Homo sapiens: one gene and its partners. The protein of the gene in region 4 interacts with the protein of the main gene of each other region in a pairwise test. Each region holds a gene or a part of one and is shown on either strand. Other genes may lie near its edges. The genes, in order: VAPB, C14orf180, PEX16 and ZDHHC15.

What was found.
Region 1: the proteins of ZDHHC15 (region 4) and VAPB interact in binary tests that used the Homo sapiens proteins (3 or more experiments, as listed by UniProt).
Region 2: the proteins of ZDHHC15 (region 4) and C14orf180 interact in binary tests that used the Homo sapiens proteins (3 or more experiments, as listed by UniProt).
Region 3: the proteins of ZDHHC15 (region 4) and PEX16 interact in binary tests that used the Homo sapiens proteins (3 or more experiments, as listed by UniProt).

What each region holds. Positions count from the first base shown.
Region 1 is NC_000020.11:58,392,219-58,399,241, forward strand, and holds part of VAPB (vesicle-associated membrane protein-associated protein B/C), read left to right. Parts: intron 1-7,023. UniProt on the Homo sapiens protein: Endoplasmic reticulum (ER)-anchored protein that mediates the formation of contact sites between the ER and endosomes via interaction with FFAT motif-containing proteins such as STARD3 or WDR44.
Region 2 is NC_000014.9:104,582,762-104,589,784, reverse strand, and holds part of C14orf180 (nutritionally-regulated adipose and cardiac enriched protein homolog), read right to left. Parts: intron 3,371-7,023; 5' UTR 3,355-3,370; coding exon 3,244-3,354; intron 2,037-3,243; coding exon 1,907-2,036; intron 1,512-1,906; coding exon 1,476-1,511; intron 1,208-1,475; coding exon 1,002-1,207; coding exon of another isoform or gene 907-1,001; 3' UTR 1-906.
Region 3 is NC_000011.10:45,914,855-45,922,771, forward strand, and holds the start of PEX16 (peroxisomal biogenesis factor 16), read right to left. Parts: upstream 3,024-7,917; 5' UTR 2,958-3,023; coding exon 2,846-2,957; intron 2,640-2,845; coding exon 2,604-2,639; intron 2,288-2,603; exon of another isoform or gene 2,145-2,287; coding exon of another isoform or gene 2,120-2,144; intron 1,450-2,119; coding exon 1,373-1,449; intron 983-1,372; coding exon 849-982; intron 715-848; coding exon 614-714; intron 1-613. UniProt on the Homo sapiens protein: Required for peroxisome membrane biogenesis. May play a role in early stages of peroxisome assembly. Can recruit other peroxisomal proteins, such as PEX3 and PMP34, to de novo peroxisomes derived from the endoplasmic reticulum (ER).
Region 4 is NC_000023.11:75,415,016-75,422,038, forward strand, and holds part of ZDHHC15 (palmitoyltransferase ZDHHC15), read right to left. Parts: intron 6,976-7,023; coding exon 6,849-6,975; intron 2,176-6,848; coding exon 2,072-2,175; intron 1-2,071. UniProt on the Homo sapiens protein: Palmitoyltransferase that catalyzes the addition of palmitate onto various protein substrates.

The DNA of each region.
Region 1 (7,023 bases), on a different chromosome or scaffold from region 4:
ATGACATGGCTGTTAGTGGCTTTGTAAGTGCATAGTACTATACAGAGATTAGACAACCACTTAACTACTTAAGTGGTTTCATCACTTCTGTACCTGAAAGGTGTGGCAGAGAATAGCGATCATTCTGGCCCTGGATTGGCCAAAGTAATTATGCCAAAGTCACTGGATATTTTTGCTAGGGAAGTGGTCCAAGAGAAGTGGTACCAAATTGTTGAAGGCCTCTGGCTCATAACTTTAGAAGAGACATCTGTGTGTGTTCTTAAATGACGTCATGAGGTGTGTTGTTTGTTTGTTTTAAACTGAATGCTAAGACAGTACAATTAATAGAGACTGAATACCCTGACTTAGAGATAATTCATTTCAGGATGAGAAATGGCACATTTAACTGGTTTCTTCCAGGTTACTCAGGGTGACGACTCTGATTTCTGGTCGTTCACCTAGATGAACCTCTGAGCTAACTTTACTTGAGAAGGTAATAACTAAAATGCCCATTCAAAGGAAAAATTATCTTTTAAATGCAGCCTAAGTTGATCGTATGGGATTGTATATTGTCAGACTCTTTAATCTTGGGAATTTTGTGTGGTATGTTAAATTTAAGGATGTTACAGAAGAAAAAGAATGCAAATTTATATGACTTTATGCAGTTTTATAGGAAGTACTATGCTGCATCATAAATATCAAAAGGAGAAAGCCTGGTGGCTTCCTGAAAGAAGCATGACACAGGAGGATTTGCCTAGACTTAAGGTTGACTTTCATGAGATATTTTTAGTAAGTGAACATTAAGCTCTTTCAGACTAGGGGTATCTTTCTGAGAGAGTAAATGTTTTTGTTTTTTGGCAGGGTCTTGCTCTGTCACCCAGGCTGGAGGGCAGTGGTGCCATCATAGCTCACTGTAGCCTCAAACTCCTGGGCTCAAGAGATCCTCCTGCTTTAGGTTCCCTGGTAGCTAGGACTACAGATGCCACCATTCCTGGCTAATTTTTAAATTTTTTTGTAAAGATAGAGTCTTGCCATGTTGCCCAGGCTGGTCTTGAATTCCTGGCCTCAAGCAGTCCTCCCGCCTCAGCCTTCCAAAGTGCTGGGATTACAGGCATGAGCCACTGCATGCAGCCTAAGTGTGTGTTTTCTTTTATATTTCTTTTTGTCTTTTTCACTAAGTCATAGGAGTTTTTTAAAATTGTCACTCTTTCTGTTGATCTCAGTTCTTCCAAGTCCTAATCGTTTCCTTGCCATCTCCTCACTCTGAGATCCCACTTGTTGTCCAGCTCAAAGAGAGCTTTCCGAATGAGTCACTTTCAAGGCATTATATAGCACTCTTCTTTCATTCCCTTCTCCCTCCCCTTCCATGAGAGTCCATCTGTGGTAAATAGTATGTCATATATTTTTTGGTCGTTCAGGACTCTAGATCATTCCTTACATCCTAGCCCATTCCCCCAGCAATGATACTGTCACATGGAAATGGTCTGTTGAACATCCATCCTCACTAGGTTAAGGTTTGTTTTGTTTTGTTTTGTTTTGTTTTGTTTTTTTTGAGATGGAGTTTGGCTCTTGTTGCTCAGGCTGGAGTGCAATGGCGCGATCTTGGCTCACCGCAACCTCCGCCTCCCGGGTTCAAGCACTTCTCCTGCCTCAGCCTCCCGAGTAGCTGGGATTACAGGCATGCGCCACCATGCCCGGCTAATTTTGTACTTTCAATAGAGACAGGGTTTCTCCCTGTTGGTCAGGCTGGTCTCGAACTCCCGACCTCAGGTGATCCACCCACCTCGGCCTCCCAAAGTGCTGGGATGATAGGTGTGCGCCACTGCACCCAGCCGGTTAAGGTTTAAACATAACTGTGGATGCATTTACTTTTGCTTTATTGCTTGACTGAACCAATGACCTTCAAGAAGTCTTAGATAGTCCTGCCATTAGTAGGGATCTCAGATGGGAGGGCACCAATGAATCAGTGTAGTTGAGTACCACTTTTGGGAGAAAATAGAAACTTGGACACTCTAAATGATAGTTTAAGGACGTTGTTTGTTTTGTTTTGTTTTTTGTATGGGAAAAGTTGGCTTAGACTCTTTAGTTCAGCCCTTCAAGTTGATGTGTAATTTAAGATTGTTTAGGAAGTTAAAAAATCTAAAGCCCTGTGGATATAGTTCATTCAGTGCAGTAATTATCTTTCAGATGCCAAGTACAGCATTAATTCTTTAGCTTTAGCATGGCACTGATTTTCTTAACACTTCATGATCACGTGGAGCAGACTGTGCTTTACAGCACAACAGAGCGTCAGCCATGTGCTGAAGATTCTTCGTGGTAGTGGTTTAGATCCACCCTGAATAGATTATCTTCATTTATTTAATTATTAAGTAGCTTGCTTATCAAAAGCGGCATTAAACTTACTAAACTTGAGTCAAACGTAAATCTTCATAGATAGTACCATTTACTTCTGAAATCTTGTTCCTGGGAGAAAAATGTGGACTGGAAGTTAACTTTCTTTTATCCACCTATTCACTCCTTTTTCTTCACAGTTAACTCCTTAGGGGAAAAAATGTATAGTTCTTGACCATGTGCTTATGTTTGTAAAGCAATGATGTTTCCTTAACGTGAGTGGTTGTGACATAGATCACTGTTATCTTCATAATTACCTGGGAGCTTTTCATCCAAGTGTGGATTTACTAAAATAATTAGTCTGAATTGATGCTTATTAAAGAGCTGAACTCTTAAACGTTAACACTATCTTGTATTTATTAAAATTGTATGCATGTTTCCTTCAAATGCTGAAGGCAGAATACTGAGAACTTTGACCCTGTGTTATTATCGCTAAGTAGTTGAAAATTAGGGGAGGAGTCAAGGGAGTATATTATATTGGTTATCACTCAAATACTACCCCTAGGCATGATTTTTAGAACCGAAACTTGAATTTTTACATAAAGAATTATCTCCAAAAGTGTCTTTTTTTTTTTTTTTTTTGAGATGGAGTCTTGCTCTGTTGCCAGGCTGGAGTGCAATGGCACTATCTCGGCTCACTGCAACCTCCGCCTCCTGGGTTCAAACGATTCTCCTGCCTCAGCCTCCCGAGTAGCTGGGACTACAGGCACATGCCACCATGCCTAGCTAATTTTTGTATTTTTAATAGAGACGGGGTTTCACCATGTTGGCCAGATGGTCTCGATCTCTTGACCTCGTGATCCGCCCACCTCGGCCTCCCAAAGTGCTGGGATTACAGACATGAGCCTCTGCGCCAGGCCAAGAGTGTCTTATATATCCCCACTTTTTTGAAAAATTTGCTGTCTAAAGGATGATCATGATTTGGGACGAATGAGCACAGCTTTCAACTAGATGACAAGAAAGATGAATACAAAGAGTGCTGAGTTCCATTAGTCAAGACAAGGTTGCCATAGAATGTCTTTAATAAAATAAAACAAAAGCCTTTTGCGTTATTTTGCACCGAGGATTGTGTTAAAAACAAAGTTGCATTATGGTTTCCAGATTGGCATCCTTGTTTTTTTCTATCATTTTAGGCCCCTTTCAGGCTGTTATCAGCATAGCATATCCAGGATTGCTTTGGCCTTGCTCAGTGGGTATGTGCGTTCTTTGAAGTTCTTACCTGACAGATGTGGGCAGCTGGCTTTACACAAGGAAGAGTTGTTTAAAGAGCTTTGGTATGGAAACAAAGTTACTAAACTTGACAGTCACTTGAGGATTATTTAAAAAACAAACAAAATAACTGAATGTGGTAAAATACTATCTCTAGAATATTTTTCAAACTGTTAAATGCATCCTTTTAACAGAAGCTGTTGATGTCTACAAACACTGTCTTTGTAGACAAAGACAAACCCCCCTTGCATGGGGGTTTGGGGGTTGGGAAGCAGTTGAGAAAATGGCATAGTCCCGTGAGAAAACCTTGGAATACTTTCTTTTAATAACATTTTTTTATTGCATAGAACTGTAAAGCTACAGAAATGCTTTCTTGGAGTTTTCCTTCATCCTTTCAGAAGGGCTAATATTGACCTTTGGTTAGCATGTTAGTATTTTCACCTGTGTCAAGTGATGTCTTCACGCTTTTGGGGGGTGTGTGTGTGCATGCCCACCTCGTGTTGTGTAGGGCACATTGGCCGATACCTATAATGTGTTTCAATTACTACATTGTTGGCATTTCAGTAGGCTCCTTCAGCCTTTGCCCATCTGGGAAGTGGAGACTAGGGCAATAAATGTTTTAGGGGTAGATTGAGACTGCAGTGTTTTTCATCTTTTAGCTTGTACTTTAAGACAATGGGATGTACCCCTAGACCATTTACCTAGATTTAAATTACTTCCTTGTGATGTGGTTTAGAGCTCTAAGTTCCTTGAGTTGTCTTGAAAGGCTGAAGGGTGCTCAGAGAATGGAGGGGAATTGAAAATGGAACCTAAGGATCTGGGAGTGGTCATATGTGTGAGTGGTGAAATGTGCCCCCCAACACCCCGTTGGGTCGGGTCTGGAGTTAAAAGCAGTGGCTGACATACATTTTGCAATATAAGGGTAAAGAAAGGTAAAGAAGGAACAAACATTTCTAGAGGATAAATGCTTTAATTCCAGAAGATAGGCCACACAGTTTAGGAACTGTGGTAAGAGGTGCTTTGCCATATTTATGTTACTGTTTAATCTGTGTAACAATCGTATGAGATGACTTAGTCAGTGGCTAGGTAACTTTCTGCTGGATGAGGCTGCACTAGTAAATGGTGGCACAGGCAAAGCCTTGTACTTTCCCTCATACCAGTATCAGCTCATTAGAGTTAACTCATAAAGGGGTTTGTTCTTGAGAGAGGGAGGCAGAGAATTTAAAACCATTAATGAAGTATTAATAGCTGTCAGGACAATTTCTTAAGAACATCAATTCATTAAGAGTTATTCTCTGAATTTTTTAGGAGGGATTTCTTGCCCTACTTTTGAAAAAGTTCAGACAGATGACTCCAAAGAATGTTTGATTTCTCTTGTGAATATTCACTTTTATATCAGATTCTGATGGTTTCTTGATTCTATATATTTAGAAAGCATTCGGCCGGGCATGGTGGCTCATGCCTGTAATCCCAGCACGTTGGGAGGCTGAGGCAGGCAGATCAACTGAGGTCAGGAGTTCGAGACCAGCCTGACCAACATGGAGAAACCCCATCTCTACTAAAAATACAAAATTAGCCGGGCATGGTAGCGCATGCCTGTAATCCCAGCTACTTGGGAGGCTGAGGCAGGAGAATCGCTTGAACCTGGAAGACGGAGGTTGCGGTGAGCCGAGATCCCGCCATCGCACTCCAGCCTGGGCAACAAGAGCAAAACTCTGTCTCAAAAAAAAAAAAAAACAAAACACATTAACTTGTGGGTAATTTGTCCTTCTGCTATCCAGTCTTTGGAAGGCAGGGCAAAGCTTGTGTGTGGTAGAGATTTCATAGGCTTGCAGGTTTGTAGAGTGGGAATTCAAGAAGTTGTAAAGGGCACTTATTAAGATAGGAATGTCTAAAATAAATGATCTTTAGCAGTGCCACCTTAAACTTTGTAAGTGTTGCTACAAAACCTTTAGTTCTGCATGCTCCTGACCAGCCATTGCCTTGGACAGAGAAACAAATAAGGGTGAGTTAATAAACTAGAGACTTGTCTCAATTGTTCAAAGAGGTAAACTTAAGGTGATTAAAAAGTGCTGTTTTATTCTGTATGAGATACACTTTGGGAAGTCGTCATTTTCCAAGACGATGATACGCCAGGCATACGAATTGGATCAGAAAGGATTTAGAGACATGCATGGATATAATGATCTCTTACAGATGTTCCTCACCTTACAGCGGAGTTACATCCTCAGAAACCCATTGTCAGTTGAAAATATTATAAGTTGAAAACATATTAGATACAGCTTAACCTACCCAACATCATAGCCTTGTCTACCTTAAACATACTCAGAACCCTTAAGTTAGCCTCCAGTTGCACAAAGTCATCTAGCACAAAGCCTATTGTATGATAAAGTATTGAATATCTCATGTACTGCATATTACTAGCCTGGGAAGAGATCAAAATTCAAAATATGTCAAAATTATGATGGCTTCACACCATTGTAAAATTGAAAAATCGCAAGTCAAACCAATCGGGGATTGTCTGTACATAAGAGATGATTGTCCAAATTAGAGCTGTTTTGGGTTTCTGCCCTTTGCAGATCCTTTGAGGTTTTCTTTATAGACAGATGACTCCTTCTGGGGGAATTGAGCGTGACTCTGATTGAGATTTGGTTCAGTTACCACATACTGAAAGCTTCCTGTGGGCCAGGCACTAGGTTGCACTGGGGACCTGGGAGGAAGGCCTAGCCCTTAAAGTTTCCAGCCTCTAGGTATTGGGAGACGAGGGAAAATGGGGACAAGATATTTATGGCCTGTCCTTATTGAGAGCTTAGAAAAAGCTGTGTTAATTCTGCTTTGGGTGTTCGATCTCACAGGGAAGATGGCATTTGAGATATGTGACTTGGCGAGCTTACACTGTGCGCTTGCCATTTTTCTAAGCGTTCATTTATTTAATTCTTAATGCAAGCCTAGGAAGTGGGTACAGTTATGATCCTGAAGTTATTAACCCAAGTTATGAACCTGACTGAGGGTTGGAGCTGGGATTTGAATCAAGATCTGTCTGATTGCAAAGGCTATGGCTTTTTTTTTTTTTGTCGTCATGCTGGCTGTGTTTCTTCCCTTAAAAGATAAGTGGGAGTGTGCCCTTGGCTTTCTTATTTATTATGTTAGGAAGATGAGAGGAGGAGTGAGACTAGAGAAAGAGGCTTGAAAGAGAAATGGGATAGAAAAATAAAGGAAAAGGCTGGGCACAGTGGCTCACACCTGTAATCCCAGCACTTTGGGAGTCTGAGGTGGGTGGATCACCTGAGGTCAGGAGTTCGAGACCAGCGTGACCAACATAGTGAAACCCCATCTCTACTAAAAATACAAAAGTTAGCCGGGCGTGGTGGTGCATGCCTGTAATCCAGGTACTGGGGAGGCTGAGGCAGGAGAACCGCTTCAGCTGGGGAGGTGGAGGTTGCA
Region 2 (7,023 bases), on a different chromosome or scaffold from region 4:
GAACCACCGGGTGGATGGTCGGCCGTGCCCACCCGCCTCAGGCTAACCTCGAGGACGCTGGTCTGATTGTCCCTGTGTCTCTCCTGGGCAGTTCTGCCTGGTGTCTAACCGTGGGCCTCCCTGCTTTGTTCAGCCCTCCCCCCACGTAGGGTCTGGAGAGGCCCCTGGTGTTTGTCATCCACAGGGCTCCCTTCAGCTCTGCAATCCGGCGACAAAGCCACAACCACAGACGGTCTCCGGGACCCACAGGCCCCAGCTGGTGGGTGGTGCTGGCTGGCCCCGGGCTCAGCTGGGTGTGCCTGGCCTGCAGAGCTGGGCACAGATGGCTGTTCTGAAGGTCGGGGGTGTCTGGGCCCCTTGCTGTCCCCTCGGCTTCTACACCTGAAGCCGCCCCTGATGAGGGGTCCTTCCCTGGGGCCTCTCCAGACTCACGGGGCTGGGTAGGGGGGTCAGACCTGGGCTCAGAGGATGGCACCTCACATCAAAGGGACCCACCTTGACAACCAGACCCTTCCCTCCCCGTGGGGTTTCGAGGTCTGGATTCCCCACAAGCCATAATCGCAAAAGGCTGGGTTTGCCTCCTCCGAGCAGCCCCTTGAACACGGGCAGTGTGTCCCCCTCCTCAAGAGGGTGCACACGGTGATGGCCGGGCCAGGCCCTAGCAGCAGCAGGAGTTCCTGCTGGGACGAGGGAGGGGTCTTTGGGTGAGCCTGGGGAGCCTCAACTGTTAGCAGTCGAATCCTCTTTCTAATAAAATCTCACATGGACCCAACACAGGAGACAGGAGGGCTGTGCTGACTAGTGTGGCGGGGCCGCCTGCTGTGCCCCCCATGTCCGATCTCACGCCACGGGGTCCCCCTTTTCCTAGTTAGCCCTCAGGCAGCAGCCCCTTTTGGCCCCCATGATTCACCAAGCAGCAGGGCCAGGGCTCAGGCTGTCTCGGAGCCCCCGGAGTGCTTGAGCTCTCCTGGAAGCCCTGCCCGTCCTGCCCGTCCTGCCCGTCAGAGCCGCAGGAGGCCGCGCCAGCAGGTGAGGGCCACGTGCCGCAGGTGCAGGACAAGGCCGAGGAGCCGGGCCCGCAGGTCCTCCAGTGCCGTTGCCACGGGCTTGGCCCGGCCGCAGTATAGGCCCAGGGCCAGCACGAGCAGGACGCACACACACAGCTGCAGGAGCAGGGAGCCGCCGTGTGGCCTGGGCCGGCCGGGCACTGCGGCCAGAGGGCAGGCAGGGTCAGCGCCAGCCAGCGCGACCCTTCCCTGGAGGACTGGGGCTGGTGGGGAAGGGATGGGGAGATTCCACCCTGTCCATGCCCATGGCCCCTCCCTAGCCTCTTGGGGTCTCCTTGCAACAAGAGCTCCCCAACTGGGGACTCCTTAGAGGCCCTGGCCCTGTGACACCTCCCTCGGGGAGGGAGTGAGGGTGGGTGCACCCACGGAGGGGGCAGTGGGGCACAGGGATGTGGGCTCAGAACTCACCCCTGACAGTGGCTGTGGCGTTCTTGTCAGCAATGTCTGCGAAAGAGAATGGAGAGTCAGCTGGGGGCACCTGCCTCAGTCCATCGGGCGCCCCCGCCCTCTCGTCTCACCCTGCACCCCCGAAGGACCCTGAGACTATTCATCAGTGAGAGACCCAGGCCCAGCCGGTCCTGACACTTCCTCAAAGGGACAGTCATGATTTGAGAATCCGCCCTCATGTTCTCCTCCAGTTGCTGTTTCATGGACCGGGACTGTGTGTCCAGATGACCCCAGGGGCCCAGGTCTTACAGGGGTTGTGGCACTGAAGGCAGGTGGCCACGGCCCCCCCATGTCCTGGGCCCTGCCAGAGCTGTGTGGGTGTGGCCGGTGTCCCCGCCTCCCTCTGCTTGACTCCACCCTCTCCCAGCTGCTTGCTGCGGGTGCCCTCTTACAGTGGACGGTCACCGCTGGGGGTTCTCGGAACCACACGCGCCTCGAGGTCCTCTGGGGCTTGGCCTCTGGGCGGTGGTGCTCCGGCCGGCTCCGTTTCAGGATGGAGGGGGGGCACTTCCTGTTGTCCTCCTGGTGTGGGGGCGGGAAGCAGACTGGTGAGTCCCCGGCGGGAGGCCGCTGGTACCCAGGTCTGAGCCATGTGGGGCCCAGCAGCACCGTCCTGGAACCTGTACCCTGTCCTGGCTGGTGCGCTATGCTGGGCCTGTCACTTCCTGTAGGGTGAGGGGCAGCTCCTGGACAGGGACTGCAGGGCAGCCAGACTCAGCCTCAGGGGCCCAGGCAAGACAGGAGCCCCTCCTGACCCCGTCTCTTCACGCAAGTCCCCACTGAACCTCTCTTCGTCTGCCCGCTGTCTCGGATGCAGGCTGCTGGACAGGGTCCCCAGGACATGTGGACAGGGGGAGGGGGCTGCAATGGCAGAGGGGCTCTGGCTAAGGGGCCAGAGTTTGCAAGCTCTATGGGGCAGGGGCCGGGCCAGGGCCGTGAGGAGGGCTGGTTGGTGGCCTCGGCCTCCTTTTCCCTGGGGCCGAGCCTCCCAGGCTGCAGGCGGGGGCAGCTCCTACACATTTGCCTACCTGGGCCCTTTCTCTGCTGGTCTGCTCACGTGTATGGGCCCAGCCTGAGTCTGGAAGATGGAGTGGGAGTTTCGGGCTGCTGTGAACCTCAGCATCCTTGTCTGTGACATGGTGACAACTGGGGCTGAGGCACCCTGGGAGCCGGGCCAGCTCTGAGGTTGTTCCTGGCTGGGGCATTGCTCGCTGTACACAGCCTGCTGCTCGGCATCTGGCGAGGCTGCCCCGCGAGGGCGTGAGGCCTGCCCATGCTGAGTCTGGCCCAGCTCCTGCTGTGCCTGTGGCATGCCCCAGCCTGGCAGTGCCTCAGAGGCTGGATGGAGCCTCAGGGTCTGAGGTCTGGGCCCCTAACCCTAACACTGACCCTTGGTGACAGTCTTGACCTGTCCTCTCTCCACCCTCTTCCCTCCTCCAACACCCTCCTCCCTGAGCTGCCTCTTCCACAGCCCTCCATGGCTCCCACTTCCTCTGCCAAGCTGTGCCCCACCTGGGGGCCTCCAATCTCCTCTGCCAGACCAAATCCTTCAAGGCACCCATTGCCCCCCGCTGCTCCCCCCAGCCCTCAGTGATCCCCCTGCCCTCCTCCTATCACCCCCTGATTCCTGGGGTGGAGGATGGCCTTTCCACGTCTGTTGCTCCCTGCCCCCTCCAGCCCCCAGTGGAAGGCCAGCTTGCAGAAGCTGTGTCCCAGCGGCCCGCCTTACCCTCTCTGCCCTGCACACCCGCGGGCCCCACGCGGCCTCCTCATTCTTTCTGGTCTGACGTCGTGTCTCTGGCCGGGAGTCAGGGCTCACGGCTCCTGCTGCAGTCCTCATTTACTGGAACATGGTCCTAAGATAAGCAGAGACGTTATTTATTATTTACTGCACAAGTGGCACTCAGAGGAATGAAAATAAGAGGAGGAGAAAATTCTTTCCTGGAAGCCAGGCTGGCTTCCCGGGCTTGCGACCGGCCACGCTGTTGAGCAGACACCACTTTTCCTCTGTGGTGTCCCCAGTGCAGGTAAATCCTGTTCCCTGCTCGTTCAGAAATGCCATCGCAAGCAATTTCCTTTGCTGCCACGGTCTTCATAATTATCATCTTTAATGGCTGCATAATATTCCACTGGGCCGAGGTCCCGTCACTGAAAGTCACCCTCGATGATTGGGTATTCATGAGGGTTGCATTTTAGTATTGTCATTTGCAATGTTTGGAGGTCATGGATAAGGCTGCAAGAAACATCTTTGCTTTGTCTCCTTTCGGTAGCGGGAAGCCCTGGGGCTGGGGACTGGGAATTGTCAGGGCTCTGAGACCGGGTCCACAGAAAGGCTTCCCAGAGGGTCATGCCCACCTTTTTGGGCTGGTGCTGGTGGGGCGCCCCTGGGCTCCTGGGGGCCCACCCCTCAGCACGGCTCACACTCTCTCTCTGTGTCTCTCTCTGCACCGCGCCCCCGCCGATTCTGTGTCTCTATCTCTCTGTCTCCATCTCTCTGTCCCCCTGCCTCTCTCTGATTCTGTCTCTATCTTTCTATGTCTCTCTCTCTGTCTCCATCTCTGTCTCCCTGCCTCTCTCTAATTCTGTCTCTATCTCCCTGTTTCTGTCTCTGTCCCCCTTCCTCTCTCTGATTCTCTCTCTATCTCTCTACCTCTATCTCTGTCTCTCTGTCCCCTCCTCTGTTGCGCTGGTTGCTTCCTGGCTGTGAATGGCGCCTCCTCGCCTCCACCCCCGTGTCTTTGGCGGCAGAGGCTGTGCTCTCCTCATTCGTGCTCACCGGTGGAGCCCCCCAAGTGTGAATTTTCTCTCACAGCCTTGGCAGGGTTCTTGACTTTTGGGCACTCCTCCCTACAGAGGGGTGCAGTGCCTACCAGGCATCTGTGCAGGTGCAGGTGTCTGCCTTTCAAGGGCTCTGGGGGTGATGAGCCTGCCTCTCTTGCTTCAGGTCGGGAAACTGAGGCCAGAGGGGGCTGGGGCTTCCCTGGGAGCTGATGCCAGGCCAGGTCCTCCCTGCCCTGCTCCCAGCTGGATAGGGGGCAGTGTGGGGACCTCCTGCTGCCCTTCAGGTTCTCCCCTGCCCTGGGGTCCTTGGAGGGTACTGCCGCCCCTGCCCCTCACAGGGCAGGTGTTTGCATTTCCTGAGATGCTTCCCTGGCTCCCCGTGGTCCTCCAAGGACCCTGCCCCCAAGGGCTGAGAAGGGGGAGGGTGAGAGTGAGGGGCCTACATGGTCCTCAAGGATAACTCCTCCAGGGTCCCCCAAAGGGATGGGTGCCTCAGAGGTTCAGGGCAGGCCTGTGGGAGGAGTGGTTTGGGTGGATACTGCAGTGACTCCAGCAGCCGTGTGCCGTCCTCTACAGGAGATAACAGGGTGGCCATGACCACCTCCCCAAGTGGGCATAAATACTGCAGACAAGCAGAGTGCCCTGTTAATGATGTCTGGGAGGACACTGTCTGGACGGGTTCAATTATTTCAAAAGAGAGCAATTTTCTGCTATCGCCGGATCAGGTTTTTATTGCAAATAGGGTTGTGGCAGGAGCCGGCCATCCAGGGGGGTGGCGGGGAGGGGCGGCTTATCTTCAGGACCTGCTCTCAGAGAGTGGCTGTGGGAGAGGTTGTGCTTGCAGGCCCAGCTGAGCTGGGGCCCCGTCTCCTGGGGCCAGGTCACCTGGAATGTGGGCTCTGCGTGATCCCCAGGGTTAGGGAAGCCACAGAGTGCCAGGCCTGTCCTGGTGTTTTGGGGATGCTGCCTGGCAGGGCAACCTTGACTGCCTGTCCGTAGCAGGGCTGGGGCTGGAAGGGCTCTCTGGATGCCATTGACTCAGTTTCCACCCTGGGTGGGATAGAAACTCTGCTAAAGCCCAGGGTGGGGTTGGGGGTGGAGCAGAGCCCCCCAGTGACCTCTTGGACCCAGAGCCCGGGCTCTCCCACTGCCCGGCGGAAGGAGGCTTGTGCATTCGGGGTCATTTCCTGGGGCTGCACGGCCTGGGGCTGGCTGGCGTGCCCAGGGCCACAGCCCCTTGCCAGGCGACCCTGCAGCAGCATTCCAGGGGGCCCAGCCAGGTTCACTCCTCATGGGGAAACAGGCCTGGAGAGGCTTGGGCCGACGGAGTCACGCAGGGATGCAGGGCTGGACGCAGTCTCCCCCAGCTCCTGCCAGCAGCTCTCGCTATTCACCCCTCCTTGGCCTGGGGTCTGTCCAAGGGATGGTGGGAAAACAGTGTGTGTGTGCACGTGTGTGAGTGCACACATGTGTGAGTATTCCCCTGAGTGTGCAAGTGTGAGAGTGGGCACGTGTGTCAGAGGGCATGAGTGTGCACGTGTGGGGTGTCTGTGTGTGTGAATGTGTGCATGGAGGTGTGGCTATGTGTGCATATGTGTACTTGTATTTCTGTGCGTGCATGTGAATATGCATGTGTGTGTGTGTCCATGCATGTGCCCGTGTGTGTGTGTGAGTGTATCTGCGTATGTGTGGGTGAATGTGTGTGTGTTTGTGTAGAGTGTATGTGAATGTGCAGGCGTAGGCAGTGTGTTTGTGAGGGTGCCTGGCTGTGGCATTAACCATCTGTTGCTGAGCAGCATAACTTGGGGAGGACGCGACTTCGCCTTCTGGGGCACAGAGTTCTGCCGGAATGTGGACAGTCAGGACTTCCTACGGGACAGCACCTCCCCCTCTTCAGGTGTGGGCTCCAGAGCACCTTGTGTGACCACGTGTGACCTTAGGCAAGTCTCCTAATCTGCCTGGGCGTTGGTCTGCTCAGCTGTGAAATGGGGGTGAGGAGAGCAGCAGCCTCTGCGGGCTCGCGTGAGGGTGGGAGTCAGTGCACAGACCCGAGTCCGCACCAAGCCTGTGCTCTGTGCCATCAGCCACTGTTGGCATCACTCGGGGAGGGAATGTGCCCAGGAACAGAGCTCAGGTGGCTCTGGCTGTGTCTGGACAGTCAGGACATCCTATGGGATGACACCTCCCCTCCGGGAGCCCTGGGGCCCTCTCCAGAGATGCACCTTCCCCTGGGCCACGCTCTGCTCCCAGGCAGCCTCCCTGAGCCCTGAGGTCCCCTCTCCAGAGATGCACCTTCACGTGGGCCACGCTCTGCTCCCAGGCAGCCTCCCTGAGCTCCGCGGTCCCCTCTCCAGAGATGCACCTTCACGTGGGCCATGCTCTGCTCCCAGACAGCCTCCCTGAGCCCTGCCATCCCCTCCCTAACTGGGCTTCACGCTTCCCCTTCTGGAAGAGAGGTCTGGCTCAAGTCCTGGGCTCTGTCCTTCTTTGGCTCTGTGACCTCGGGTAAGTGGTGTGACCTCCCTGGGCCTCATTTTCCCCAGTGGAAGCAGGGAAGGAGTGGCTCTGGCATGCTCGGCAGGTGGGGGCGGGGAGGCCTGGGGCCTCTGGCAGGGACAGTGTGTAACTGGAGGCCTCGTGACAGATGGGAGATAAAGGGCGGAAAATAGCTTCAGAGCCTGGACCTGTAAGTGTCCCGCTAGGCCCGCTGCTGGGGAGGGCGCGTCCA
Region 3 (7,917 bases), on a different chromosome or scaffold from region 4:
CCCGTCCACAGAGGAAAGCACTCTGCAGCCCTCCCTAGCCTGGGGAAAGCTCAGCATAGCTGTGGCCAGAGCCAGCCTCCCGGAACCCATGGACAGGCAAGGCAGGGAAGGCCCAGCCTGACCACATCTATGGAGACCACAGCACCAGAGGGGCCGTCTCCTCTCAATCCTTTGCCTTCAAAACAATCATGATGAGAGGCAATGAACGGCCCCAACTCAATGTCCAGAGAGTGAGGCCCAGAAGCTGACGGGATGGGCCCAAAGCCCTGAAGGGACAGATGTGGTGCGTGCCCTGCCTCCTGCCTCTAGAGGCTATGGTTCTGGACACAGAACCAGGCTCAGAGTCGAGGTTGGCGGCATCCCATCTGTTCCCTCTTCCTGCAGGCTACAAAAATGAATGACTCTGGCCATGACAAGTACTGGGTTCGTGTTCTGATTTTGTCCCTAGCCGCATCATTGTCTTCTCTGTCGAATACATGGCAATGAGAACACATAGTTGATAGGGACAGGCGTGCTCCATAAACAGATACTACTGTATTCATGCTGGTTGGATCTAAATCCTCAAGTTAGTCCCATGGCCCATTCCGCTCCAGGGCTTGGGGAAGTAGCTCACCCGGGGGCTGTGCCTGGGTCTCTCTGTCCAGTGGAACGATAGGGGGTGAAGTCTGGAGGCCAGCCTTGAACCAGAGCAGCAGGAGCATCCGCAGTACAGCCCTGGGTCGGGGAGTATGTCAGGGTTGTGGGGAGGTGGCTAGCCGGCGGGAGGCCAGGGATGCTCTGCTGAGCACCATCTGTGTAGCTAGCCTGCGTCACCCCCACCCAGGACCCTCTCCACAATCCCAACCTACTTGGCCAGCTGGACGAGGGCGATGACAAGCCAGCGGCCCACTTCACCCCACACCTTGGCAGCTCCCATCTCCATGAACACCTCCACGCACTCCAGCACGCTCAGCCATGTCAGCAGCTTCTGCTGGGACAGCGACTGCAAGAACCCCAGGCCAAGAAGTCAGGGGGCCTGGGACTACAGGGAGTCCCAGGCCCTTCTCCTAGGAGGGAGCTTCTCTGACAAGAGATGTGGACCTTCCCCTTTCCAAGCCTAACTGTGCAGGTGTGAGTTCAAACACCAACTCCACCATTAACAGGCTGGGGGACCTGAAACAGCTGACTCTACCTCTCTTCACCTGAGACAGTCTCTTCATCTAAGATGGGAATACTCACACTTTACAGGTCACCTAATGAGATGGTTTGAGGCTCAGATGGACATAGGCCTGTCTCATACTCCATGAGACATGTGCTGCACGCATGGGCTAGCTGCTACTATTTCATTCCTGAGTCCCCATGCTTCCCACCCTGTTCTTGGCAGAATTCTCACCACAGGCAACTTTTTCCGAAGCTCCTTCCGTAGGATCCCGTCATTGAGCAGCACAAGCAGGTTAGAGGCAGAGTACACTGAGGGGTAGAGAGTGGCCTTGAGAGGCTGGCTCTGCAGCCTCCATCCCTCTCACCTTCTCCCCAGAGCTGCAGGGATCACCTGTCACATGCTCTGCTCAGACACCCACAGACTATGTGGAAACCAACCTTCTTCTCCACCCACTTCCTCAGCACTCCCCTCTCCCCAACATGATCTCACAAGGGTGGCTGGACCAAGAAAGGATGGGTCAATCTCAGTGACAAGCCAGTTACTGCCCTGCTGGATGGCACTGGTCATCCAGCTGCCCACAACTGCCCATCGCTCTCTGAACTGCCACAGATACACGGTCCCACCTCCTGGCCCTTTCTCTCTTGGCAGCCTGTTCCTGAGGGTCTATTCCACCTCCACTTTTCTTTTTTCTGAGTCGGAGTTTCACTCTTGTTGCCCAGGCTGGAGTGCAATGGCACAATCTCGGCTCACTGCAACCTCTGCCTCCCAGGTTCAAGCAATTCTCCTGCCTCAGCCTCTCAAGTAGCTGGGACTACAGGCACCTGCTACCATGCCCAGCTAATTTTTGTATTTTTAGTAGAGATGGGGTTTCACCATGTTGGCCAGGCTGGTCTCGAACTCCTGACCTCACGTGATCCACCTGCCTCTGCCTCCCAAAGTGCTGGGATTACAAGTGTGAGCCACTGCACCTGGCCTCACCTCTGCTTTTCAAAACCCAGTGCATTCTTTCAGGACTGTGACAGCAGTCACTGGGCAAACACTCTTGAGGTAGTTACAATCTGGGAATCCTGGAATCTGGGAGATCTAGACTTGAATCTTGGTTCTGGGACCATCAGTGACTGTTCTCTAACCTCACTGAGCTTCTTCCTTAAATGGACAGTGATGACAATAAGTACCACTTAATATGACTGTAGGGAGGATTAACAAGTAAAGGTAAGAAAGGCACTTAGTCCAGCGCCTGGCCAGTAGTGAATACTCAGATAAGGTCCCCAGACGTGTCTCTTGACTTAGGGACATGGAGGGCCCAGGACAATGAACAACAGACCTTGTGCCGATTCAGTCATAGCACAAGGTGTCTAACGGGCAGCCCAGGTCCTCGGGCTGGGGTGCTCACCCTCTCTGGGGAACTCACCAGGGGCCAGGCAGCCGATCCCCCATCCCCCACCCCCAGAGCCCGGCTCACCCAGCTCTGACAGCTCGTGCGAATCGGCGAATCGACCTGGGGAGAGGGTACAGAAGGAGGTGTGAGTGAGCATCTGCCTCACATTTCGTCTTCGGGTCCCGGAAATCCCCTCCCTACGCCCTTTGGGAACCTGGACGGGTCTTCTCAAGCACAGCGATCACTACCCTGACTCCGCAGGGAAGGGGGCCACTGGGGTCATAGGTCAGGGCCCAGAAGGAACTGATCAAAGGTCAGGGTGGCACCTGCCAGCAGGTAACTGAAGCCCCGCACTGCTGTCTCCAGCTGGGCCGTGGCGGCCGGGTGACGAGTCACGTACTCCTGGTAGCGGAGGCCCAGGAGCCGCAGCTTCTCCATCCTGCCCTCGGCACCGACAGACCCACAGAAGGACCGTACGACAGGCTGCGGCGCCCTGCTTCCTGCGCCCTCCTTCCTGCTTCCGGTCTTAGGCCCGCCTCTTGGTTGCTTAACTTCCGCGGGCCAGAAGGCTGAGGACTTGAAGAACCGGTGAACCACCCTTCACCCCATCTCTTGAACCGCTTCCCACTCGGGTAGCCCTTAGCAACTGAGGGCCCAAACCCGGCCCCCTACTCCCTCAAGTCATTGGTTAGCACGCTCTCCGCCCCTGACCCGCCCAGCGCCGTCAGCACCCAGCTCTTCCGTTTACCGGGTTGGCTGCCCTTGCGCCTGCGCAGTTAAAGCTCCGGTAAAGCCGGGCGGCAGTCAGAGCAGTTCATTCTAGAGAAGGGAGCTGGAGCCCCGAGTCTTTCCAATGGAACGCCGAGAGACTCGAACGGCAGGGCCGGATTTTAAAGGGCTGAGAGATAGCGGGTGCTTGAAAAAAGGAGCCTCGATCAGATTTGGGGAGGTGCGGGGCGTCTAAATACAGTTGCACTGTGTCTCAGCAGGCGCGCGTTCGGCCAGTATCCCCATCTCCGTTTCCTCAACAAAGGTAGTGCTGGGGAAACTGAGGCAGTAAGGAGTCCAGCCCTCTAGTGCCGTCTCGATCCCCTAGACAGCACAGTTAGTGCTCCGGCTTCGGCCTCAGCTCCCGTATGGACTGTGCCCCCCAAAGGGCTCGCGCCTGCATTCCCACATACGCGAAGAAAGCCCTGGCCCGGGCTTCTCTCGGCTCGGTGGCCCTTGGGCGGGAGTATCCCTTCTCTGGGTCTCGGATTTCCCGATCTGTAAAATGGTTTGAGGGCAGACTTGATCCTTGAACTCAGAATCGATCTCAGCTTTCTGGCCCTCGGACGCACCTCGCAGTCCTCAGCTGCGCCCCCAAGGGAAGGGGAGACCCCTGGGGAGTATCTTCCCAAACCAAGCAGCCTCCCTGGAACGGGTGGCACCGGGAGATCTGCGGCGAGTGGTGGAGGGAACGGGCGCTCTGGGGAGGTAGCGCTGATTGGCTGCGGGGAAAGGGGCGTGACATGGGTGGAGCCGTGGGCCAGTGGCCTGAGGGAGCGGGCCAGCGGATTTATGGTACCCTGAGAATAGTAATACATTATTTTACCTAATCCTCTCCACCAGATATCTCCAGATGAAGAAAGCATCCTTTTAAGAACGCCCAGCCAAAATTTGAGTGTTGGTCTTTTCTGACCTCAGAGACTAGGCGGTTTTTTTTAATTCATTTTTTTTAACTTTAATTTTATTTTTAGAGACCAGGTCTAAGCATCACACCTCACCAGGAAACCACAACCTTCCTTCCACTCCCTCACTCCACCCTACTCCACAGCTTAGTTTTCTTCTCTATCAGGTGGGGGATTAAAGCTGCCCTCTTCTCACATCAAAGAACGAAGACCCAGGGAAAGGTGACCAGGGGCCTGAGGAGAGGCAAAGGTCTTGGAGAACAGAGGAGGTGGTCATGGGCATCGTCGACATCATTTCTGGCCACGCTCTGGGTTCCAGGCTTGCTTGCCCTCCTCCCAGCAGCCCCAAGTTGCTATGAACTGTTCACAGATGGGAAATTAGGGCCCAATAAGGAGGGGAAAGGATTTGTCCCACATGGCACAGCAAGGCACTGGCCAAAGAGGCCACAGCGCAGGTCTCCAGTGGCAGTGCCCTCTCTCCTACTGCCCACAGCCCACAAAAGCTGTGACATGTTGAGGCTCCTTGGTCATAAGGCCAGTTAGCAACTGGGATTAGGACCTAGGCTCAGGGCCCTCAAGGTGAGGCTCCTTCTCCCTTCCTCTGCCCCACCTTGTTTTTTGTTTGTTTGTTTGTTTGTTTTTGAGACGGAGTCTCACTGTCGCCCAGGCTGGAGTGCAATGGTGCAATCTCAGCTCACTGCAAACTTTGCCTCCCAGGTTCAAGCAATTCTCCTGCCTCAGCCTCCCGATTAGCTGGGCCTACAGGCGCCCGCCACCACGCCTGACTAATTTTTGTATTTTTAGTAGAGACGAGGTTTCGCCATGTTGGCCAGGCTGGTCTCGAACTTCTGACCTCAGGTGATCCGCTTACCTCAGCCTCCTAAAGTGCTGGGATTATAGGTGTGAGCCACTGAGCCCTGCAGGGCCCTGCTGTGCACCAACACCTTAGTGAACTTGTTCCTCAAACCTCCAGTTTGGCCACTCCTCCAGCCCTCCCTCTGCAGCTGTGGAGAGGGTACAGAGAGAGAATTTGAGGTTCTTCAGCACTCCTTGGGCTGGAGGTCCTGATTCTGAGAGCAAGGTGTGGAGGGGAGAGGGGCAGACTCCCCAGGACAGAATAGGAAGGGGCTTGGGCTGGAACCAGTTTCTTCTCCCTCCCTGCAGAACTGGGAAGGGGAGCATGGGTCTAGCCAGCTTGGCAGCAGCAGGGCTGCCTGAATTTCCTCTCTAGATCCCAGGCCGGATTAGGGCCCAGAGACAAAGAGTTGCGGTGTGTGCAGGAGGCCCCTCCCCTGCTCCCTGGCCCCCTGCCTGGGCTTGGCCGTCTTTGTTGGGCTGGAAGGACCTTTGGGCAGATTGAGCCGTATCCTCTCTCCTTCAGTTTGCCCCAAGTCACAGGGGAAGAGAGGTAGACCAGTCCAACATTTACCTACGAGAGTACCAGAGGCCCAGAGATGGAGCCTCACTCGTCTAATAGGGTCACACAGCAAAGTCCTGGGCAGAGCTGGGTCAAAATGGGTCTTAGGCCAAGAGGAACAGCACCTGTTTATATGCCCATACGTGTCCCTCTTTCTCCCTCCACGCCCCCAGAACAACCCCTTGGGGGCCTAGCAGGTATCTCAGCACTTCAGTTTCCCTGAGTGGTGAGGTTGAGCCAGAAGAAGGGCCAACATTGTGAGTGACTACAGTGAGATCTGCAGACCCAGCTTCCTGCACTGACTCCCCCAGCCCCTTTATTGAAGACTCATCCTGGGCCAGCACCCAACTATGGATCCCATATGGTGTTTGTTTGTTTTTAGAGACAAGGTCTCACTCTGTCACCCAGGCTGGAGTGCAGTGGTGTGATTACAACTCACAGCAGGCTTGACCTCCTGGGTTCAGGTAGTCCTCCTACCTCAGCCTCCCAAGTACTAGGCACATGCCACCACGCCCAGCAATTTTTGTATTTTTTGCAGTCATACAGTTTGGCCGCATTGAGCAGGCTAGTCTCAAATTCCTGGGCTCAAGCAATCCACCTGCCTTGGCCTTCCAAAGTGCTGGGATTACAGGCATAAGCCACTGTTCTGGCCTGGTCTCACATGTTTAACCCCCACAAACCGTCTCTGTTGAGGGTCCTGGAGAGGGAATCACATTTCCCCACCCCAGCTTTAGGCTACAGATGAAGATCAGGGAGGCTGGAGGCTCAAGCTCCAGACGCCTGAGTGGCCAGTGCATGGCCCTTCTCAATTTCTGGGTGCACAAGGAGCCACCATCAGTCTCCATAGCAACCATTATCCCTGCCCTCCAGAGACCCAAAGCCTGACCTTCCCCATCTCCCAGAGAAAGGGGGTCTCAGGTTGGGCTGCTTTCCACAGCTTCTTTTGAGTTTGCCTCACTTTTTGCAGCCAGAAGTTGGGCAAATGACACAGCCTGAGCCCCCTTTCCAGGTCATGGGAGGGGAGATTCTCATTCCAATCCACTTTCAACAGGTATTGAGCACTTGGTATGTGCAGGCCCTGGTTGGGCACTGGGGACTGGACAGACAAGGTTCCAGTCCGGTGAGCAGCTTACATTCTGGGAGGGAGACCTGCAATAAACAAGCAAACAACTTCAACTTTCCATGAGTGCTAGCCAGCCCTGGGAGGCTCCGCTGCCAGAAGGAACGTCAAGGGCAAGTCCTGGGGCGGGAGACCCTTCCGGAGGAGGAGCAAGAAAGCTGCTTCTGCAGCGCAGAGCCTGGGGAACGGAGTGGGGCCGCTTGAGACGGGAGGGGCCGGAGGGTGTTCTTGTCTAACAGGTCACTTAAACTCTCCGGGGGAGAATTAGCCCGCATCATGGGATTAATCGAGGGTGATTAAATCCTTAGCACAGGGCCTGGCACGCTGTGCTGGTTTAGGGTCCAGAGCGCCCCCCACCCATTCCCTGGCCTGCTATGGGGTGCGCGGGGGAGAGGGAGGAAAGACGAGCTCCAGGCCGGTGCGCCCGGGCACAATCACGACGATCTGGACAAGAGTGGGGATCCCCGGCCCTGCCCAGGCAGCCTAGGCCGCCCGCGTCTGGGGCCCCTCGCCAGCTCCCGGGCGGGAGGCGGCCTTCACAAGGGCGCTTTGTCCTGGCGGCGCCGGCAGGGCCCGGCCGGGCCACCTGGACTGAGAGTGGGGGAGTGAGGCGAAGGCTTCAGGTGCTCCGCGGCTCTGGCGCAGGTGTCGGCCGGCTCCGCCCCTGTCCCCAGAGCAGGTGTCCCAGACCCTGCGGCCTGCATTCCGGCCCCCTCCTCCTCCCTCGTGTCGAGCTCCCGCAGTGTCTTTGATCCCGGGCCCGGGGACACTGGCCCCTCCCCTTGGGGAGTGAGGGGAGGAGACGCGGCCCCAGAGCGGGGGCAGGGCAGGGGGTCAGGGCAGGTAGCGGGGCCCGGGCCTTCGCGGGTGGCTGCTCCCGCTCCCCCAGCCCTCCCCTCGTCCTGGTGGGAAACTCAGCCCAGAAGGGGGCTTCGGGGGCTCCTCGCGGGCTGGGGAACCGTCGGATGCCGGCCCAAGGGGCGGGGCCAGGACCCCGGGGGGGTCACCCCGCCCCTTCGCGCTCAGCCCCGCTGAGGTGAAACCTGAGCCCAGGTCGGGGGCGGGACCGGCCCGCGCCTCTCCCCTGGTTCCCGCACCCTGGCCGGCGGCTGCGAGCGCAGGGCCCAGCCCGGGAGCCGCTGGAGCAGGTGAGGGAGGTGGCTCGGCGCGAGCCGCACAACCCGGCCGTCG
Region 4 (7,023 bases):
TGCCCGCCTCAGCCTCCCAAAGTGCTGGGATTACAAGCGTGAGCTACAGCGCCCGGCCATACAAGCACATTTATACTAAATGAAATGTTATATTTTGGGCTAGGAATAAAAATTCCACTTGATTCCTAAAAGAAATTAACTTAAATACACACATGTAATTTCAACTTACAGCACCTTTCCTAGGAATCTAAGTTGTTAAAAATGTAAGAACTGTTTGTCTATGACAGTTATGCACAGAAAATGGGAGCAACTGAAGTTAACATAGAATCAACCTAACAAATAACACAGCATGAGAACTTGCATTAGATACTAGAATGGGTTACAAAGGAGGATTGTGGAGTCTCCTTCAATGAACTTAAAAAAAACCCCTCAGCTATCTAAGATGGCATAGTGGTCTTGCTAAAGCTAAAGGCACCTTACAGTTTATGATTTTATGATTATGTAAGAAGCAGTTGAATGCTTCAGATCACTAAATGGCATGCAATCACAGCACTGTGTCTCATATGTACTTGTCCAAAGGAGAGACCTAGCATTGTAGTGGAAAAAAACTAGGATTTGGAATCAAGATACCTTGACATGTGAGATTAACATCTCTCAATTTTAGTTTCTTAATTATAAAATAGGGATGCTATTAATAACACTGCCTATCTAACCTGAAAGTTGTGAGGGTCAAAGGATATGAAGAAAAAATATAGGAAAGCACTTTGTAAACTATAAAATAACATACTAATTTTTAATGATTGAATATTTTTGAAAAGGTCTGGAATTGGAGACTGCTTCAAAATATAACCTCTTTATGATGTGATGCTATATCTACATTTAAAGTATTCCACTTGCCAACACAAAGCTCAGCTATGAATAGCTTTTTTCATTGTGAATTATTTCAAACCAGGTAAAGACCTGATAATTATTTGGCTTCTATTAGAGTTTGGGTTTAATACCAAAATAAGAGTTGTTATAACTTGTGACTGCTGTAAGTAAAAGTCAGTTCAGAAAGACTGAAGACTGAAGGAAGACAGGTCAAAATATAGTCAATTTTCCAATAGTCAGCAGGAGGAAGTAAGGGAGTTGCCCTTGTAAGTTCTTTGGGATGGACAATAACTGTTTTCTTTTTTATCTATGGATTTGTGGCTGTTTTGTATTCCTTGGGCCTAGTAACATGCTTTTCTCTAAAACTAGATTTCCTGGTAATCAGGGCCTGGATAATCCAACTGGGTAAAAAATTAGAAAGGCTTGTTCTCTACCGCTGCTCCCACTTCAATACTTTTCCATGTCTTCATTTAGCCTCCTTCACCCCAGGTACAGTTTGTGATAGCTACTACAAGTTCCTACTCAAAATTGCTGCCAGCTACTGCATTATTGGGAACAGTAGCCAAAACTACTTTCTAATGGTTGGTATTAGCAACATAAGTAAATGTTGGAGACACAAAAGTAGGCACAGCAACAGGTGGAGACAAGGAATAGGGCTGGCAATGGGGATACATTATATGAGAACTCAACTTTTAGCTCTTTACAAAATGCCTTAGGATGACCCAGTGACCTGGTAGGAGAAAGTTGAAGCTTATTTTCCTTTGCCCCTCTTCCTTTTAGAAAAGTAGACTACATGCATGTGTAGGCTTGCCCCATTACTATCTTTTAGTTTTTAGTGTATTGAAACCATTCTAAAAAGAGAGTGAGTATAGGATTTTAAAGAAAATTTAACCAATGTGAATGAAAGAGGATGGAGAAAGGTGCAATGTTGCCCATTGATTAAATTGAACTCCACATTCAAGCAAAGTACTACAAGTGACTACCCAGCAGGATTGTTTAGAAATCCATATATATCCAGATGTATATCTGACTGGTAATATAAATCACAGAATCACAAAGCTGGTAAGGAGCCTCCCAAGCTGCAATCTAATCTTATCTAAACTACCCATGGTTACTAAACAAATATGGCCATACTTGCTCTCCACCATCCAGAGGACACTTATGAGGTTGACATGCTTATAAAATCTTTCTGGACACTATTTACTCACCACATTACATTGGTTGTATTAATGTGGACTTCATAGTCTTTGACCCCACTTACCTTGGTTGTCATCCTCGTTGTCTTCCCAGGTTTCTTCATTTGCTAGCAGTGGGTTCTGTGACTCATTCATAGACCTCATAGGGAAGGAGTGTCCATCACCAGGGCTGATGGGAAAAGAAAGGCAGTGACCTATTGCAGCTGACATAGACTTTTGTGAAGGTTATAATCCTCTTAAAAACAAGAGGGGGGTTCTTAGCCATATTTAGTCTCATTGTCTAAAGCCATGGTGGAATGGGCTCTTACAATAGCATTATTTAGTTGCTATATTGCTCTCGATTTCCATATCTTATTTGTGTGTCTGCATCAGTGTTAACTTCTTGTTTGTAAGAACTCTATAGTTTGCTTCCCAAAATGCCCAGTATGGCAATATGCACACACAGCAAGCTTCATACATATCACTTAATGATGATGATACCAATTTATATCCAATTATCTCACTGCTTTGATTCTAAGTTTTCAAGAAAGATGACCAGTCTCTGAAACACTAAATACAGTGGAGATAAGCTGGTGTGAATTGGTGAAAGACAATGCGCAAATGCACTGTTATTTATTTGGTGTGCATGGCAGAAAGGTTATTAGGAACTAGGGGAAAGAGCCAGAGTGAGCCATCTCTAGACTGCAGATTTTCAGGGCAATTATCCACATGTGGGGTCTCGCTTTGTGGCTACCTGTGGTAAGCTAGGGTCAACTCCTTGGGTAATTTCTGGCCACTAACAGATGGGATGCATTGGAGGGAACTGAGCTGGCCCTGGCTAGAAGAGGCTACAGTTTGAACATTTCAGTTTAGGTATCTGAATGCATTCCACATTTGAGTCTGAATGACTTTTGATGTTACCTATGCCTTTTCTCCTGTTCATGTATGTGGTAAATTGAAATTTGACAGATTTTATTGATAGCACTCTAAAGAGAATGTAAGTGTACTGATTATAAATGAATGGGCTTTGATTTTTGGTTTTGTTCTTTATTCCAGAGAAGACTGATTTTACATCTCCCTTTGATGTGGTGATGATGTGTGGATATTTGTGTATGTGAGTATGTGAATAGGGTATAGGTAATATCTGGTAACAGTTATTAATCAATATTACCCACTGACATAGTTTTGCCTTGTGATTTATAGACAGGTTAGTTGGATACACCACATCTCTGAAATACATGAGTCTTTAAAATACTAACTGCTACACAGGAAGTATCAAGGCAATCAATCAAGGAGAAATTTTTCCATAATTACCACCCTACCCCCAACAAAGTTACCTCAACTAAGTGAACATGAGTGTATTCCTGTCTAAGGAGGGGACTGAAAAGTGGCTGCAAGAAGGCTATAAGCAAGCTCTGCTCTAGAACTAGTTTAGTTGATGGTGGTTCAATCTGGTTCACAAAGTCATTCAGAGAACACAAGCTTGACTGTTTATTTCTCATCCACTACTTTCCCTGCATAATTGTTGCAGTTCTAAGAATGACCTACAACCGCAAATTAAACTATACTACAAGGCTACAGTAACAAAAATAGCATGGTACTGATATGAAGACAGATATATAGGCCAATGGAACAGAACAGAGGCCTCAGAAATAACGTCACAAATCTACAACCATCTGACCTTTGACAAAAACAAGCAATGGGGAAAGGATTCCCTATTTAACAAATGGTGTTGGGAAAACTGGCTAGCCATATGCAGAAAGCTGAAACTGGATACCTTCCTTACACGTTATACAAAAATTAACTCAAGATGGATTAAAGATTTAAATGTAAGACATAAAACCATAAAAACCTTAGAAGAAAACCTAGGCAATACCATTCAGGACATAGACATGGGCAAAGACTTCATGAACAAAACATCAAAAGCAATGGCAACAAAAGCCAAAATTGGCAAATGGGATTTGATTATACTAAAGAGTTTCTACACAGCAAAAGAAACTCTCATTAGAGTGAAGAGGCAACCTATAGAATGGGAGAAAATTTTTGCAATCTATCCATCTGACAAAGGGCTAATATCCAGAATCTACAAATAACTTAAACATATTTACAAGAGAAAAACAAACAACCCCATCAAAAGAAACTACCATCAGAGTGAACAGACAATCTACAGAATGGGAGAGAATTTTTGCAATCTACTCATCTGACAAAGGGCTAATATCCAGAATCTACAATGAACTCAAACAAATTTACAAGAAAAAAACAAACAACCCCATCAAAAAGTGGGCGAAGGATATGAACAGACACTTCTCAAAAGAAGACATTTATACAGCCAAAAGACACATGAAAAAATGGTCATCATCACTGGCCATCAGAGAAATGCAAATCAAAACCACAATGAGTACCATCTCACACCAGTTAGAATGGCGATCATGAAAAAGTCAGGAAACAACAGATGCTGGAGAGGATGTGGAGAAATAGGAACACTTTTATACTGTTGGTGGGACTGTAAACTAGTTCAACCATTGTGGAAGTCAGTGTGGCAATTCCTCAGGGATCTAGAACTAGAAATACCATTTGACCCAGCCATCCCATTACTGGGTATGTACCCAAGGGATTATAAAACATGCTGCTATAAAGACACATGCACACGTATGTTTACTGCGGCACTATTCACAATAGCAAAGACTTGGAACCAAGCCAAATGTACAACAATGATAGACTGGATTAAGAAAATGTGACACATATACACCATGGAATACTATGCAGTCATAAAAAATGATGAGTTCATGTCCTTTGTAGGGACATGGATGAAGCTGGAAACCATCATTCTCGGCAAACTATCACAAGGACAAAAAACCAAATACCGCATGTTCTCACTTATAGGCGGGAATTGAACAATGAGAACACATGGACACAGGAAGGGGAACATCACACACTGGGGTCTGTTGTGGGGTGGGGGGAGGGGGGAGGGATAGCATTAGGAGATATACCTAATGCTAAATGATGAGTTAATGGGTGCAGCACACCAACATGGCACATGTATACATATGTAACAAACCTGCACGTTGTGCCCATGTACCTTAAAGCTTAAAGTATAATAAAAAAAAGAAAAAACCAAACAACCCCATCAAAAAGTGGGCAAAGGATATGAACAGACACTTCCCAAAATAAGACATTTATGTGGCCAACAAACATATTAAAAAAAGCCCATTATCACCGGTCATTAGAGAAATGCAAATCAAAACCACAATGAGACACCATCTCATGCCAGTTAGAATGGCAATCATTAAAAAGTCAGGAAACAACAGATGCTGGTGAGGATGTGGAGAAATGGGAACGCTTTTATACTGTTGGTGGGAGTGTAAATTAGTTCAACCACTGTGGAAGACTGTGTGGCAATTCCTCGAGGATCTAGAACTAGAAATACCATTTGACCCAGCCATCCCATTACTGGGTATATACCCATCGGATTATAAATCATTCTACTATAAAGACACATGCACACGTATGTTTATTACAGCACTGTTCACAATAGCAAAGACTTGGAACCAACCCAAATGCCCATCAATGATAGACTGGATAAAGAAAATGTGGCACATATACACCATGGAATACTATGCAACCATCAAAAAAATGAGTTCATGTCCTTTACAGGGACATGGATGAAGCTAGAAACCATCATTCTCAGCAAACTAATACAAGAACAGAAAACCAAACACCGCATGTTCTCACTCATAAGTGGGAGTTGATCAATGAGAACACATGGACATAGGGAGGGGAACATCACACACCAGGGACTGTCCTGGGGTGGGGAGCTAGGGGAGGGATAGCATTAGGAGAAATACCTAATGTAGATGATGGGTTGATATGCAGCAAACCATCATGGCACGTGCATACCTATGTAACAAACCTGCATGTTCTGCACATGTACCCCAGAACTTAAAGTATAATAAAAAAAGAATTACCTACAACCTCAAATTAATCTTTGTTCTTGCTTTTCATATTTTTATTCATAAAATAATATTAGTATTAACCACAAAATATATAAAATGGAGAAAATATAAATAATTTCTAAGACTATTGCCCTTACCATTTTTAACATTTTTTGGTGTATTTCTCTTCTGCTGCTTCTCTTCTATATATATTTATGTTTTTAATCACAGTGTATTGAATTTTTCGTTTTTCACTTAAAATATAGTACCATTTTTACCATTTTTTGGTATATTTCTCTTCTGCTGTTTTTCTTCTATATATACTTATGTTTTTAATCACAGTGTATTGGATTTTTCTTTTTTCACTTAAAATATAGTAAGCACTTTCCCTTTTTGTGACATAGTCTTTATAACCATTACTTTTGATTGTATAATATTCCATCCAGTATGTGTGTATATATATATATTATATATATATAATATATATATAATATATATATAATATATATTATATATATATATTCCCATATTGTTGGCTGTTTAGGTTGTTTCCTAATTATTGGCTATAAATAATGCTGTGATGAACATTTTTGTGCATAGTTTGTCTCTGTCTTTAGGGTAGATTCAATTCCCAGAAATGGAATTACTGGGATGTTGGGCAAGTAGATTCTTAAATTTTTTGATAGATATTACCAAATTCAGTTATAAAAGATTGGTAGTGCCACTGCACACTGCCACAAAGAAAGCATGAGAATATCTATTTTATCAGACCCTCACCTCTTTATTTGCCTTTATTAACCTAGAAATGAAGAACTTGGGGAATAGAGTTTCACACTGGACTGATACCTGCTGCATACTACAATCAAAATTGAATTTGCTGGTTCAAGGCAGGGTCCAGTACTAACTTCTTCCAGTGGTAATATTTACTCACCTGGAACCAATAGGTATTAACCAGAACTTCTTCTTATCTCCAAACACCTGCTGGATATTCTTGATGAAGCCAAGGTTGAACCCATTTTTCTCTGGGCCACTTGTAAACACTGGAGTGCAGAAGGCCTCTAAGGCAGGGCAGGAGAGTTGAAGAAAAGAGGAAGAAAGCAATAAAG